Homo sapiens: one gene and its partner. The protein of the gene in region 1 interacts with the protein of each later gene in a biochemical or structural test. Each region holds a gene or a part of one and is shown on either strand. Other genes may lie near its edges.

What was found. The genes of interacting proteins can lie anywhere in the genome.
Region 2: the proteins of MYO1A (region 1) and CNN1 form a complex in vitro, tested with the Homo sapiens proteins (one study listed by BioGRID).

The regions. Positions count from the first base shown.
Region 1 is NC_000012.12:57,039,544-57,047,302, reverse strand, and holds part of MYO1A (unconventional myosin-Ia), read left to right. Parts: intron 1-195; coding exon 196-242; intron 243-376; coding exon 377-440; intron 441-652; coding exon 653-751; intron 752-3,093; coding exon 3,094-3,197; intron 3,198-3,299; coding exon 3,300-3,447; intron 3,448-3,944; coding exon 3,945-4,063; intron 4,064-4,144; coding exon 4,145-4,231; intron 4,232-5,805; coding exon 5,806-5,871; intron 5,872-6,014; coding exon 6,015-6,119; intron 6,120-7,759. UniProt on the Homo sapiens protein: Involved in directing the movement of organelles along actin filaments.
Region 2 is NC_000019.10:11,541,660-11,549,418, forward strand, and holds part of CNN1 (calponin-1), read left to right. Parts: intron 1-5,015; coding exon 5,016-5,082; intron 5,083-5,172; coding exon 5,173-5,310; intron 5,311-6,137; coding exon 6,138-6,248; intron 6,249-7,663; coding exon 7,664-7,759. UniProt on the Homo sapiens protein: Thin filament-associated protein that is implicated in the regulation and modulation of smooth muscle contraction. It is capable of binding to actin, calmodulin and tropomyosin. The interaction of calponin with actin inhibits the actomyosin Mg-ATPase activity.

The sequences.
Region 1 (7,759 bases):
GTGAGAATTCTGCTCTCTGCCCTCTCCACCCTCCATCTAACCCCCAGAATCACTGAGCCCTAGACCCTCTTCCCCAGTGCTGCAAAATCACCTCTCTTGTTCGACCCAGAAAAATCTGAGATTGTCATGAGGACTGGAAGCCCTTCCTCCTTTCCCTTCTCTAGAGTTTCACTTCTCCCCTCCTCATCTCTGTAGCTTTTGGCAATGCCAAGACCATTCGCAACAACAATTCCTCCCGATTTGTGAGTAAATGTCTCCCCACCTGGGAAGAGAGGATGTGGGGGCTTAAGAGGGAGGAATGTGGCACAGACCCCTTCCAGGCAGGGTGGTGAGAAGAGGAAGAAGCTAAGTCTCTCTCTCTGGTCTCTCTCTGAAGGGAAAATACATGGATATTGAATTTGACTTCAAGGGATCCCCCCTCGGTGGTGTCATCACAAACTGTACGTGTCTCCCCAATTCCACTCACCTGTCTTCCACCTGCCTCCCATGGCCCTTTCTGCTAATCTGTTCCTGTAGAAAGGCAGAATGTTAGACGTCAAGGAGACTTCCCAACCACTAGGAATGCCGGCGATGGGGGCATTCTCCAGTAGGGCTGGAGAAGCTACGGCATCTCCCAGGCCCTCAGGATATTATTTTTCTAATTCTCTGCCAGATCTGCTTGAGAAATCCCGATTAGTGAAGCAGCTCAAAGGAGAAAGGAACTTCCACATCTTCTATCAGCTGCTGGCTGGAGCAGATGAACAGCTGCTGAGTATGTGCCTGCATGGGGAAAGTGTCCTCATGAGTGACACATGGCAAAGTCCCCAACCTCCATTCAGTCCCAGAACCCCTGTTCCCTCTGGGCCCCTACAGCCCTCTTCCCTTGAGCCTCCCAGATTTTCCTTGCTGCATTTCCCATTCTCAGCCTCACCCACTCATTGTTGGGAACAAATTCCTTTACCCCTGTGTTCTCTTCCTTTTCTGGGGTTTTATTGCCAGGGATATGCCTTCTTGCCTCTTCACTGTTCTCGTTCCTCTTTCCTGCCTGGGTTCTGCTTTCCCTGAGCTGGCTTCAAATATAAAACACTTATATCCATCTACTTTCCTTCCTACCTTCAACTTAAGGGGATTTAATTAAAGCAGGGAAGCAGGCAGAATGTTGTAAGTGTTCAGGAACTTTCAGTGAACTCTAGTTGAAGCTGTCCTGGGTCTACATCTGCCTTACCTAGGACCCTGTTCCTGATTTTCTTTTCATTCATTCATTCACTCATTCATTTATTCATTCATTCAACATCTCTTGAACACCTATGATCAAATATTATGCTAGCCTCTAGGGATACAGAGTTGAGTAAGACATGACCCTGTCCTCGAAGAACTTATAGTCTTCTAGGGATAAGAGGTGTGTGAGCAGATCCATTGTAATATTGTGTGATCGGGGCCATCAGGCCTGTGCAGCTGGCTATAAGAGCAGAAGACCTAGAGCCCCTTGGCTTGGCCTGGGGAAGGGTCCATCACAGCCTGGATGCTGGACTGGCCTGAAGTGGCTCTGGGTGGGCATCACTGGAGTGTCTGGTGGACTTTAAGCCCTACTGGAGTTTGCCTCCCAATCTCCTCTCTGGCTGTGAGCACCGTGGGTGTCTGGCCCCTAAGAATGTCTCTTTGGTTTCTGGTGATTCTATGATAGACCTGTGCTATCTCCTTTTCCACTCTTGGAGATCTCTGTGATCTTCAGGAACCCCTGCAGATCTCATGCTCTTTCCTGGCTTAATAGTTTTGGTTATGTTCAACTTGTCTGCATCATGGGCATTAGTGTCTTGTTCTGGTTGGTCTGTCATCTATTGGTTTAAATCAACTCTAGATGAGGTCTCCCAGGTATCATCATCCCCAGACATTCTGACTCATTCTCCCTCCAGATACCCTCCTTAGCAGGCCCTTGTTTCAAACTTTGTGTGCTGGGGGAGCTGCCATTAGACTATAGTTTGAGGGATACTCCCTGATTCTCAGATCATTTGCATACCAGATAATTGACATCCCTCAAACTCCATGATTAACCGAATCCCTCCCATCCTAGGGAAACAGCTTTGATCATTCACTTGATTCATTTATTAAAAAGAGAAAATTTCCTGCATGCCAGAAAGGCACACAGAATATGGAGATGAGAAACACAGTCCCAACCCACAAGTTGCTCATTTATGGGAGAGACAGAAAAAAACAAAACCTAGCCCATATGATATGGGCTGGGATATAGATTCACCAGTGGGGAATGCAAGACAGCCATTTGGCTCAGGCCCTCAGCATCAGAGAAAACTTTTCAGAAGAGGTGTCAGGGTCAGGGAACATGCTACCTGCCACTTTATTGGTGTTTGGTGTTCAAACAATGAATGAGCAACCCACGCCAAGAGTTGAGGCTGGGGGCAGGCAGGAGATATGCGCTTACCCTTCTCCCCTTACCTTCACCGTCCAGAGGCACCTGCGTAGGATGGAAGGGTTGCTTGTTTATTTTTATTGTTTAGAACCCTGAGGGTAGGGAGAAGAGTAAAATGAGGGTTTTGTTTCATAAAAGTTGGGGGAAAACCCAATCAATATGAGCATCAAAACCCTAAACACTACTTAAAAGTATACTTAAAAATTTAGTCTGTTAGGCCGAGTGACTCATGCCTGTAATCCCAGCACTTTGAGAGGCCGAGGCGGGTGGATTGCTTGAGTGCAGGAGTCAAGACCAGCCTGGCCAACATAGAGAAACCCCATCTCTACTAAAAATACCAAAATTAGCCAGGCGTGGTGGCATGCACCCATAGTCCCAGCTACACAGGAGGCTGAGGCATGAGAATCACTTGAACCTGGGAGGTGGTGCTTGCAGTGAGCTGAGATCGCACCACTGCCCTCCAGCCTGTGTGACAGAGTGAGACCCTGTCTCAACAACAACAAAAATTAGTCTATCATCACAGGAATTAATGATCCCAAAACAAAGGAGGCAGGGGAAGAACCCAAAACAAAAATGACTCCTTTGGATAAGTGAATGAATCCATTAGGGCAAGGGCTGTGAGGTGTCAAGGCTGGAGGGCTCCAGAGAGCCTGGGTACTAACCATCTTCCCCAACACTGGCCCTCCCAGAGGCCCTGAAGCTTGAGCGGGATACAACTGGCTATGCCTATCTGAATCATGAAGTATCCAGAGTGGATGGCATGGACGACGCCTCCAGCTTCAGGGCTGTACAGGTGGGTGCCCAGGGTGAGGCAGGCTTGGGCCCTTAGGTCATCCTCTATTCGCATTGGACTGGCACCAACAGTTCAGCTTTTGATTTCTGCTTTCTGCCTAAGAGTGCAATGGCAGTGATTGGGTTCTCGGAGGAGGAGATTCGACAAGTGCTAGAGGTGACATCCATGGTGCTAAAGCTGGGGAACGTGTTGGTGGCTGATGAGTTCCAGGCCAGTGGGATACCAGCAAGTGGCATCCGTGATGGGAGAGGTCTGCATCCCAGCCTGCTGGAGCTCCTACCCAGACCCTGAATTTCCTACTACAAGTCGTGTCCTTCTACCATCTCTAGCATAATTGATCTCACCCTGATGCAGTCCCACTCAGCCCACTCCTGAGTTCTCCCCTAAACAGACTCACTGAGAACTCCCGATGAAGCATATTGGAATGAGCTTTTGAAATTTGATATATCTAGGTCTGGAAATTCTCTGAGTCTGAGTTGATTCTTCTGCAGAATGGGGATAATCACACCTAATTCAGGAGATTCTCATATTAAAGTAGATGATACATGCAAAATGCCCAGATCCCCTTTCTTCTGTCCCCCAACTCCCTGAGATTCCTCCAGGGCCATGTTCTGGGTTGGCTGCAATGACTTCTCCAGTGAGACCCCAGGACACCAGTGTCTCAGGCAGTTTCACTTATCAGATTGCACTCCCTCCCCTGAGAGAAAGCTGCCTCTAAGGACATGCTGTACTTTCTCATTATCCCAGGTGTTCGGGAGATTGGGGAGATGGTGGGCTTGAATTCAGAAGAAGTAGAGAGAGCTTTGTGCTCGAGGACCATGGAAACAGCCAAGGAAAAGGTGGTCACTGCACTGAATGTTATGCAGGTAAGGAGCTCACTGGAGTGGAGGGGGCTGTTTCGACCCTGTTCTGTGATGCCACCCTAATCAGCTGTGCCTCACCCACAGGCTCAGTATGCTCGGGACGCCCTGGCTAAGAACATCTACAGCCGCCTCTTTGACTGGATAGTGAATCGAATCAATGAGAGCATCAAGGCAAGTGGCCGCTCTGCTTTCTCCATGCTCTCCTGTCTGCCTCACCTTCCTGCCCTGTCACCAGCCCTATATCTTGGTTTCTGAGATGAGCAGAGTAGGGAGGATGATGGGGAGGGTACAGTTCCTTCTAACAGTGTGTTGTCATGGAAACATCACTGGCTTTTGAGTTAGACAATCTGGATATATCATCTACTTACTTAATTCAAAGTCATGTGGACTTTCAATTAAGTAAAAAGTCATGTGGACTTTCAATTTCACAAAGGTTCTGGGCCTCAGTGTCCTGATTTGGAAATGCCCACTAAGAAACACTAATATGCTGGGTGTGGTGGTCCATGCCTGTAATCCCAGGACTTTGGGAGGCTGAGGTGGGAGGATCACTTGAGCTCAGTAGTTCAAGACCAGTCTGGGCAATATAGTGAGACCCCAACTCTATATTTTATGAAAAAAAATAAGTTAAATAAAAAACTATTTAAGAAACACTAATGCATTCCTACCTGCTTCACAGGGTTTAATAAGGATCAGATAAATTATGTAAATAGTTACCATATGATACCACAATTCCCACTCCTAGGTATATACCCAAGAGAACTGAAATTAGATGTCCTCACTAAAATTTGTGCACAAATGTTCACAGAAGCCTTATTTGTAATAGCCAAAAAGTAGAAACAGCCCAAATGTCCATCAACTGATGAAGAGATAAACAAAATGTGGTATATCTGTACAAAAGAATGTTATTTGTCCATAAAAAGAATGAAGTACTGATACATGCTTCAAGATTGATGAGCCTGGAAAACATTATGCTGAGTGAAAGAAGGTAGTCACAAAAGACCACATTTTGTTTGATTCCATTCATATGAAATGTCCACAATAGGCAAATTCATAGAGATGGGAAGTAGATCAATGAATGCCAAGGGCTGGGGGGAGAGGGGTATGGGGAGTGACTAATAATGGGTATAGGATTTCTTTTGTGGGGTGGTGAAAATGTTCTGAAATTAGATAGTGGTGATGGTTGTACAACCTTTTGAATATACTAAAAAGCCACTGAATTGTACATGGTATGTGAATTATATTCAGTAAAGCTGTTATTAACAAATTATCCACATGGAAGTGCCATCTATTTAGAAGCTATTACTGAAAGGTAGTAGAATAAGAAGGAATTTGAGTCTAGGCTTGGTAAGTACCTATCCTTCTGAAATTTGACTTTGTTATCTGTAAAATGGGAACAATAATACCTTATAAGGTTATGATAAATAAAGACATGGAATCTTTTGTAAAATGCTCTACAAATATAAGAGATGGTTATTGTCCTGAGAGGTTTTATTGTCTTTCTACCTGGTACCATCGGAGCACCATCCTGGAATCTATCTGTATCTTCCTTTTCCTCCTTTCCTCCCTCTTTGCTTGTTCTCTAGTGTGTGGAGGAGGGAGAGTAAAATCACAACAATTCCTTTCCAGTTTGGCAAAGCTCTTGCTAGTTCTGTTTGCCCCCTACTCCAACCCCATCCGCTCCAGAAGGACCTGGCCTGGTGTGCAGAGGGGGCCTGTCCTCAGATTTATCTTTCTCTCCTCTTCAGGTGGGCATCGGGGAAAAGAAGAAGGTAATGGGAGTCCTTGATATCTACGGTTTTGAGATATTAGAGGTGAGAGTGCCTCACCTCAGCACCCTGCTCCCCTAGGATTAGAGGTGGACAGGCTCACAGGGGGGATGTGAGGGAGGGGAGGTAGGACTGAGACGGAGAAACAGTCTTGGAGTGAGCTCTCTAACCTGTGCTCCCTCTCTCAGGATAATAGCTTTGAGCAATTTGTGATCAACTACTGCAATGAGAAGCTGCAGCAGGTGTTCATAGAGATGACCCTGAAAGAAGAGCAAGAGGAATATAAGAGAGAAGTAAACCAAGTCTTTTCTACTTCCCCCTCTTAAACAACTTCTAGGCATATGCCAGAGCTTCCTTTCTCCTTGATCACAATTTCCTCTACATCGTCCCCAGATGTGAACACAGAGGACAAAATGTTTCCCTTGCATAGTAGATCATTCCAGCATTACCAAGTAGCCCTAATCCTCTGCTCTCCATTCTTCATTTCCCTGGCCTCCCAGGGTACATGTGTGGAAAGTCCTGACAAGAGGGAAGTGACAGCTGTGCTTGGCCTATGGCAGACTGTGAGCCAAATATAAAAAGGACATTTCTTCTGGGTTTGGCCCAACCACATCTCTTTCTATGCCCTTCTCTAACATCTCAGAGTCCTTGGTCTCCCCCGGGCCCTAGCTAGAGTTGCTGTCCTTTCTTGTAACACCATGATCCCAGACTTCCTCACCAGAAGTACCCCATGGCTCCAATTTCTATGGCTAAGTGTTAGAAAAGCTCTCTGATTGAGCTCATTACCTTCAAAGTGTGAATGGCTGAGAGTCTCACTCATCAAAACCCTCCCAGGGATGTTCCCTTGTGAGCTCTCAGGAATAGGTTATAACAGAATTTCAGGCAATGTGGTCACAATGTGTGAAAAAGTTTTTTTAGTTGTTTTGTATGTTTTAATTTTAACGATTTAAATGATCAGATACATAATACATTCCCATGCTTCAAAATTCAAAAAGCTTAGAAAGTATATAAGGAAAGTTTCCCTCCTACTTCTGCCCCTAGCCTCCTAGTTCTCCTCCCCACCCAGAGGCAACCAACATGGGCTTCCTTCCAGAAGTCCTTACGCATATGCAAGCAAATTTGTAAATATATTTCCCCACAAAATCTATACAAATGGCAGTAAATACACTCTGTTCTGTACCTTATTGTCATCACGTAACGAGATCTTTCCATGTCAGTATGTAAGGATGCTTTTTTACAGCAACACAGTATTTTAAGAATATCATAATTCCTTTAACTGGTTGGGGAAGGTATTTGGGGGATGAAGTGGGAGGCAACTTAATTTAATTTTGTTTTCTTTAAAGACCTGTGATAGAGGGAGGAAAGAAAGACCTATGCTTCCCAGCCATACCTGAGAATGTCCCAGCCTGGAGCGTCTGACCCTTGGGTGGGATCAGGAGCTATCCTGTCTGTAGGCCTGATGCCCAGCAAGTCCCCAAAGTAGAGAACGATTATCTTTGGGTCTTCTGCTTTTGTACCATTCTTGCTTTTCAAAACATTATATAGTCTCAAAGTCTCATGTAGATAAAGTGGTTCCTAAAGGGTAGTCCTGGACCAGCAGTATCAAAATCACCTGGAAACATGTTGGAAATGCAGATTCCAGGCCCACATCCCAGACCTGTTGAATCAGAAACTTGGGGAGTGGGACCCAGAAATCTGTATTTTAACAGCCCTCCAGGTGGTTGTGCTGCACACTCAAATTTGAGAATCACTGATGTAGATCTTTGAAGATGTATCAAATTAGCCTTGTTGTTTGATGATAAACTCTCACGTGCTGTGGTTTTATAGAGCACAGAGTAGTGTGGCCGCTGTTGCACATACGCATGGATCCTTCCCCACTCCCACACAGGAAATCTCTATCCTAATCTTCACTCAACATGTTACACTTCCCTCT
Region 2 (7,759 bases), on another chromosome or scaffold:
CTCACTGCAACCTCCGCCTCCAGGGTTTAAGTGATTCTCCTGCCTCAGCCTCCCCAATAGCTGGGATTACAGGCACGCACCACCATGCCTGGCTAATTTTTGTATTTTTTTAAAGTAGAGATGGGGTTTCACCATGTTGGCCAGGATGGTTACGAACTCCTGACCTCAATTGATCCACCTACCTCAGCCTCCCAAAGTGCTGGGATTACAGGCACGTGCCACCATGCCCGGTTAATTTTTGTTTTTTTTTTTTTTTTTTCAGTAGAGATGGAGTTTCACCATGTTGACTAGGCTGGTCTTGAACTCCTGACTTCAAGTGATCCACCTGCCTTGGCCTCCCAAAGTGCTGGGATTGCAGGCACATGCCACCACGCCTGGCTAATTTTTGTATTTTTTTTTTTTTTTTTTAGTAGAGACAGTGTTTCACCATGTTGACCGGGCTGGTCTCAAACTCCTGACCTCAAGTGATCCACCTGCCTCGGCCTCCCAAATTGCTGGGATTACAGGCATGAGCCACCTCGCCCGACCTTCTTCTTCTTCTTCTTTTTTTTGAGATGGAGTCTTCCTCTGTCACCCGGGCTGGAGTGCAGTGACATGATCTCAGCTCACTGCAACCTCTGCTTTCCGGGTTCAAGTGATTCTTGTGTCTCAGCCTCCTGAGCAGCTGGGATTACAGGTGCCCACCACCTTGCCCGGATAACTTTTGTATTTTTAGTAGAGACGGGATTTTGCCATGTTGGCCTGGCTGGTCTCGAACTCCTGACCTCAAGTGATCCACCCGCCTTAGTCTCACAAAGTGCTGGCATTACAGGCATGAACCACTGCACCCTGCCGGCCCTGGTTTTCTCCTCGCCTCAAAACCTCATTGCTGAGGGAGGTGAAAACCCTAACAGCTCCCAAGCCCCAGTTCCACTGCAATCTTTTTTTTTTTTTTCAGATGGAATCTTGCTTTGTGACCCAGGCTGGAGTGCAGTGGCATGATCTTGGCTCACTGCAAGCTCTGCCTCCCAGGTTCAAGCAATTCTCCTGCCTCAGCCTCCTGAGTAGCTGGGATTACAGGTGCCCGCCACCACGCCCAGCTAATTTTTGTATTTTTAGTAGAGACGGGGTTTCACCATGTTGGTCAGGCTGGTCTCGAACCCCTGACCTTGTGATCCACCCACCTCGGCCTCCCAAAGTGCTGGGATTATAGGCGTGAGCCACCGCGCCCGGCTCCACTGCAATCTTAATGCATAGCAGGGCCCTAAACCCAGCCTGCGCCCGATCTGCATTTGAGTCTGACCCAGGGCAGAGTGACTGTGAGTGGCCTCGGGAAGACTTTGAAGGTGCAGCTTCATCAAGTCCTAGATGCTGGGAAGAAGGGGTGTGGGGGGTGTTTACCTTGTTCCATTCCCATCCACTAGGAACAAGGAATTGGCAGGTGGGGAGGTAGGCATGCTGGTGTCCCAGCTCAGGCAGAGGACTGCTCAGACGTCAAACAGTGCAGTCCCAGCCTGGGCAACATAGCCAGATTCCATCTCTACAAAACATTTTTGTTTTAATTAGCTTGGCATGGTGGCATGCGCCTGTGGTCCCAGCTACTCGGAAGGCTGAGGTGGGAGGATCGCTTGAGCCCTGGAGGTCAAGGCTGCAGTGAGCTATGATCGCGCCACTGCACTCCAGCCTGGGCAACAGTGAAACCCTGTCTCAAAAAAAAAAAAACTAATGTAAACGACAAGTTGATGGGTGCAGCAAACCAACATGGCACATGTATACCTATGTATCAAACCTGCACGTTGTGCATGTGTACCCTAGAACTTAAAGTATAATAATAATAATAATAATAATAATAAAAGAGTGGGCCGGGCGCGGTGACTCACGTCTGTAATCCCAGCACTTTGGGAGGCTGAGGCAGGCGGATCACGAGGTCAGGAGATCAAGACCATCCTGGCTAACACGGTGAAACCCTGTCTCTACTAAAAAAAATACAAAAAATTAGCCGGGCGTGGTGGCAGGCGCTTGTAGTCCCAGCTACTCGGGAGGCTGAGGCAGGAGAATAGCGTGAACCCGGGAGGCGGAGCTTGCAGTGAGCCGAGATCCCACCACTGCACTCCAGCTTGGGTGACAGAGCGAGACTCCGTCTCAAAAAAAAAAAAAAAAAAAAAGACCTAATGTAAATGACGAGTTGATGGGTGCAGCAAACCAAAATGGCACATGTATACCTATGTATCAAACCTGCACATAGTGCACATGTACCCCAGAAGTTAAAGTATAAGAAAAAAAAAAAGAGTGTAGTGCAGTCACCCACGCACTCCGGTCATTCACTCATTCATTCATTCATTCATTCACAAAAGAAGCATTTATGAGTTCCTGCTGTGTGCCAGGCTCTGGCCTAGGCACTGGGAACAGTGAACAGAACAGACTCGACTCAGAGCTCAAGGACTTTTAGTCCAGTTGAGGAGATCAATCATATAATTGATCAAATAATCACAGATTTGTGGTCGTAAGTGTCCTGGGGAAAACTCAAGCGGAAGGGAAGATGGGAGGGTCAGGTATATGTCTGCGGGTGGAGAGTCTGCAGTTTCCTAGAGAGTGGTCTGGGAGGCCTCTCTGAAGAGGTGACATTTGAACAGAACCTTAGATGAAGTGAGGGAGGGCTCAGGGGACCTGAGGCAAAGCAGAGGGGGCCACCAGTGCAAAGGCGTGAGGTAGGATCGTGCTTGGGGTGTTCAAGAAACAAGAAGGAGGCTGGCGTGACGAGCACCAAATGATTGAGCAGAAGTGGAGATGAAGTCGCAGAGTGAACTGAGAGTCAGATGGTGGAGGGCATTTTATTTCATTTATTTATTTAGAGACAGAGTCTTGCTCTGGTGCCCGGGCTGGAGTACAGCGGTGCAATCATAGCTCACTACAGCCTCGACTTCCTAGGCTCAACTGATCCTCCCACCCCAGCCTCTTCAGCCCCAGCCTCCTCAGTAGCTGGAACTACAGGCACACATCACCACGCCCGGTGAAGTTTTCGGGTTTTTTTTTTTTTTTTTTTTGTAGAGACACGGGTCTCACCATGTTGCCCAGGCTGATCTGAAACTCCTAGGCTCAAGCCATCCTCCTGTCTCGGCTTCCCAAAGCACTGGGATTACAGGTGTGAGCCACTGTGCCCAGTTCTACAGAGGGCATTTTAGGCAGAGGACTTAGGATTTCATTCTGAAGGCAATGGGAGGCTCCTGGAGGATTTGGAACTGGACGGTAACTTGAACTGTTTAAAAAAGGCCATTCTGGGCCAGGGGCAGTGGCTCATGCCTGTAATCCCAGCACTTTGGGAGGCTGAGGTGGGCATATCACTTGAGGTCAGGAGTTCGAAACCAACCTGACCAACATGGTGAAACCGCGTCTCTACTAAAAATACACAAAATTTAGCTGGGCATGGTAGCAGGCACCTGTAATCCCAACTACTTAGGAGGCTGAGGCAGGAGAATTGCTTGAACCCAGGAGACAGAGGTTGCAGTGAGCCGAGATCCCGCCACTGCCTTCCAGCCTGAGTGACAGAGCAAGACTCCATCTCGGAAAAAAAAAAAAAAATTCTGGCTGCTGGATGAAGAAGGGTGGGTCTGTAGGGGATGAAGTGGAAGTTGGGAGCTCATTACAAGAGGCCAGGAAACAGACTCTGGTGGCTGAGACCCAGGTGGAGGTGGCGGGGAGCAGTGGGTGGTTTTCTGGACTCATTAAAAGGCAGAGCCAAAGAACTTTGGAGGGACTGGACATGAGGCTGAGAGAAGGAGAAAGGGGGAGTTGGGGGCAAGTCCAAGGGCTCTGGCTGAGCACCTAGAAGGGGGCACTGCTAGGCAGGGAAGGTGGAGGGAGGGGGGAGTCTGGAGGGGGAAGCTGCATGTCAGGAGTCTGGAGCAGGGTGAGTTTGATTTGAGACACCCAGGCACCCATGGAGAGAGCTGAATGAGATGGTAAGAAACCCAAGCTGCAGGGAGATGAGGGAGTTGCTGGCATATGGAGGCACTTAAAGTCAAGACACTGAATGAGGCCAGGTGCTGTCACTCATGCCTGTAATCCCAGCGCTTTGGGAGGCTGAGGCAGGAGGATCGCTTGAGCCCAGGAGTTCAAGACCAGCTTGGGCAATACAAATACAGTGAAACCCCCTCTCTACCAAAAAAAAAAAAAAAAAAAAAGCCAGGCATGGTGGTGCGCACCTGTGATCCCAGCTACTCGGAAGGCTGAGGTGGGAGGATCGCTGGAGCCTGGGAAGTTGAGGCTGCAGTGAGCTGTGATTGCACCACTGCTCTCCAGCCTGGGCGACAAAGCCACACCCTGCATCAAAAAGAAAAAAAAAAGAAAAGAAAAGAAAAAAGAGGCGAGATCATTAAAGGAGTGAGTCAGAGAAGAGGCCCTTGTGGGCTTCCTGCTGTCTACAAGAGAAAAGGATGCTGAGACACGCCTGCCAGTGAGGCTTCGGAGATCCCAGAGACTCGGACACACCTTGGATAAGCAGGCTTTCTGACTGGGACCTGAGTCTAGCTCCTTGGCATCAGTGTCCCATTTGTGTGTGTGCTTGGGTGGTTTGGAGGGGCTGCAGCTGAGAGCTGACTGCAGGGAGAAGTGACGCTAGGGTATGGCATGGCCCCTTGTGGTCATCCCGTCACCCTCCTCCTGCTGGGCTGGGCTGGAGAGCGGGAGTGGGGGACACCTTTCTTTCTTTTTTTTTTTTTTTTGAGACGGAGTCTCGCTCTGTCCCCAAGCTGGAATGCAGTGCTGCAATCTCAGCTCACTGCAACCTCCGCCTCCTGGGTTCAAGTGATTGCCTCAGCCTCCTGAGTAGCTGGGAGTACAGGCATGTGCCACCACGCCTGGCTAATTTTTGTATTTTTAGTAGAGATGGGGTTTCACCATGTTGGCCAGGATAGTCTCGCTCTCCTGACCTCGTGATCCACCCGCCTTGGCCTCCCAAAGTGCTGGGATTACAGGCGTGAGCCACCGTGCCCAACCCTGGGGGGACACCTTTCTTACCCCTTCCCCACTCTTCTCAGATTCATCAATAAGCTGCAGCCAGGCTCCGTGAAGAAGATCAATGAGTCAACCCAAAATTGGCACCAGGTGAGCCCAGACACAATCTCTTCCATCCTTGCCCGCAAGCCCCTCAGACCTCCCCTCCCCACCCAGTGACCACCACCTGCCCCCCTCTAGCTGGAGAACATCGGCAACTTCATCAAGGCCATCACCAAGTATGGGGTGAAGCCCCACGACATTTTTGAGGCCAACGACCTGTTTGAGAACACCAACCATACACAGGTGCAGTCCACCCTCCTGGCTTTGGCCAGCATGGTGAGTGTGGTTGCAGGCTGGGCAGGGGGTGGTGGGCAGCCTGGGCTGGGATGCAGGTGTGGCCACTTGTGCTCCTGAGCCCAGTGAAGGTGGCGGAGCGGGGGGCAGGGATCGGGGAGCAGGTGCTGTCAACAGCGTCCAAGGGGGCCGGGCGCGGTCGCTCACACCTGTAATCCCAGCACTTTGGGAGGCCAAGGTGAGCGGATTGCTTGAGGCCGGGAGTTTGAGACCAGTCTGGCCAACATGGTGAAATCCCGTCTCTACTAAAAATACAAAAATTAGCTGGACGTGGTGACGCATGCCTGTAATCCCAGCTACTCAGGAGGCTGAGGCAGGAGAATCGCTTGAACCCGGGAGGCGGAGTCTGCAGTGAGCCGAGATCGTGCCACTGCCCAGCCTGGGTGACAGAGCCAAGACTCCGTCTCAAAAAAAAAAAAACAAAAAACAAAAAACAGTGTTGGCCGGGCACGGTGGCTCACGCCTGTAATCCCAGCACTTTGGGAGGCCGAGACAGGTGGATCACAAGGTCAGGAGATTGAGACCATCCTGGCTAACATGGTGAAACCCTGTCTCTACTAAAACTACAAAACAAAATTAGCCGGGCATGGTGGCAGGCGCTTGTAGTCCCAGCTACTAGGGAGACTGATGCAGGAGAATGGTGTGAAGCCGGGAGGCGGAGCTTGCAGTGAGCTGAGATCACGCCACTGCACTCCAGCCTGGGCAACAGAGCGAGACTCTGTGTCAACAACAACAAAAAAACAGTGTCCAAGGGGACTGTGCAGCCTGGAGGCCCCCTTGTCAGTCCCTGCTTTCCCTGCCCCACCTAGGCGAAGACGAAAGGAAACAAGGTGAACGTGGGAGTGAAGTACGCAGAGAAGCAGGAGCGGAAATTCGAGCCGGGGAAGCTAAGAGAAGGGCGGAACATCATTGGGCTGCAGGTACCGCCCTGTCCTCACTGCGCAGAGGTCATAGAGGCCAGGAGGGCACCCTGATGTCTGAAGGCTTTTGGGGACAGGATATTTGGCATTAACTATACTATAGGCCGGGTACTGTGCTTATGCTCATCTTCCATTCACAAACTCACTCACTCTGCCAACACCCCAGCAGACAGGTGCTTGTTATCAACATACCCTTTCCGCAGATGAGAAAACTGAGACCCGGAGAAGCTGGCTCGCTTTTGCACAGATCTTCCAGCTGATGCGTGGCAGGCTGGAACTTCAATGCTAGAAGTCAGTCATGTGATAGGCCCACTCTGGGCCTCAGTTTCCAGTCTCGAAAGGATGCCTCAGGCGGGGTGCAGTGGCTCACACCTGTAATTCCAGCACTTGGGGAGGCTGAGGCAGGAGGATTGCTTGAGGTCAGGTGTTTCAGACCAGCCTGGGCAAAATAGAACCCCCCTCCACCGCCATCTCTACAACAAATTTAAGAGTTTAGCCAAATGCAGTGGTGTCTGCCTGTGGTCCCAGCTACTTAGGAGGCTGAAGTGGGAGAATCACTTGAGCCCAGGAGTTCAAGGTTACAATGATTGCATCACTGGACTCCAGCCTGGGCGACAGAGTGAGACCCTGTCTCTAAAAATGAAAATGGGCTGGGTATGGTGGCTCATGCCAGTAATCCTAGCACTTCGGGAGGCCGAGGCAGGCGGATCACTTAAAGTCAAGAGTTCAAGGCCAGCCTGGCCAACGTGGTGAAACCCTGTCACTACCAAAAATACAAAAACTAGCCGGTGTGGTGGGGCACACCTGTAGTCCCAGCTACTCAGGAGGCTGAGGCAGGAGAATTGCTTGAACTCAGGAGGCAGAGGTTGCAGTGGGCCAAGATTGTGCCGCTGCACTCCAACCTGGGCGACAGAGTGAGATGCTATCTCAAATAAAATAAAATAAAACAAAAAAATAGAATAGAACAAAATAAAATATAAAAATAAACTAAAAAATGGGCCAGGCACAGTGGCTCACCCCTGTAATCCCAGCACTTTGGGAGGGTGAGGTGGGTGGATCACCTGAGGTCAGGAGTTCGAGACCAGCGTGGCCAACATGGTGAAACCCCATTTCTACTAAAAATACAAAAAATTATCCGGGCATGGTGATGCCCACCTGTGATCCCAGCTACTCCGGAGGCTGAGGCAGGAGAATTGCTTGAATGTGCAAGATGGAGATTTCAGTGAGCTGAGATCATGTCACTGCACTCCAGCCTGGGCAACAGAGCAAGACTCCGTCTCAAAAAAAAATAAATAAAATAAAATAAAAATTGAAAAAAATGATAAAGCGGCGCCTCATCCTCTCCCATCAGCTATGCCTCATGGCCCATGATGAGGTCTGTAATTATTGGTGTGATTCTCCTTCTGGCTTCCTAGATGGGCACCAACAAGTTTGCCAGCCAGCAGGGCATGACGGCCTATGGCACCCGGCGCCACCTCTACGACCCCAAGCTGGGCACAGACCAGCCTCTG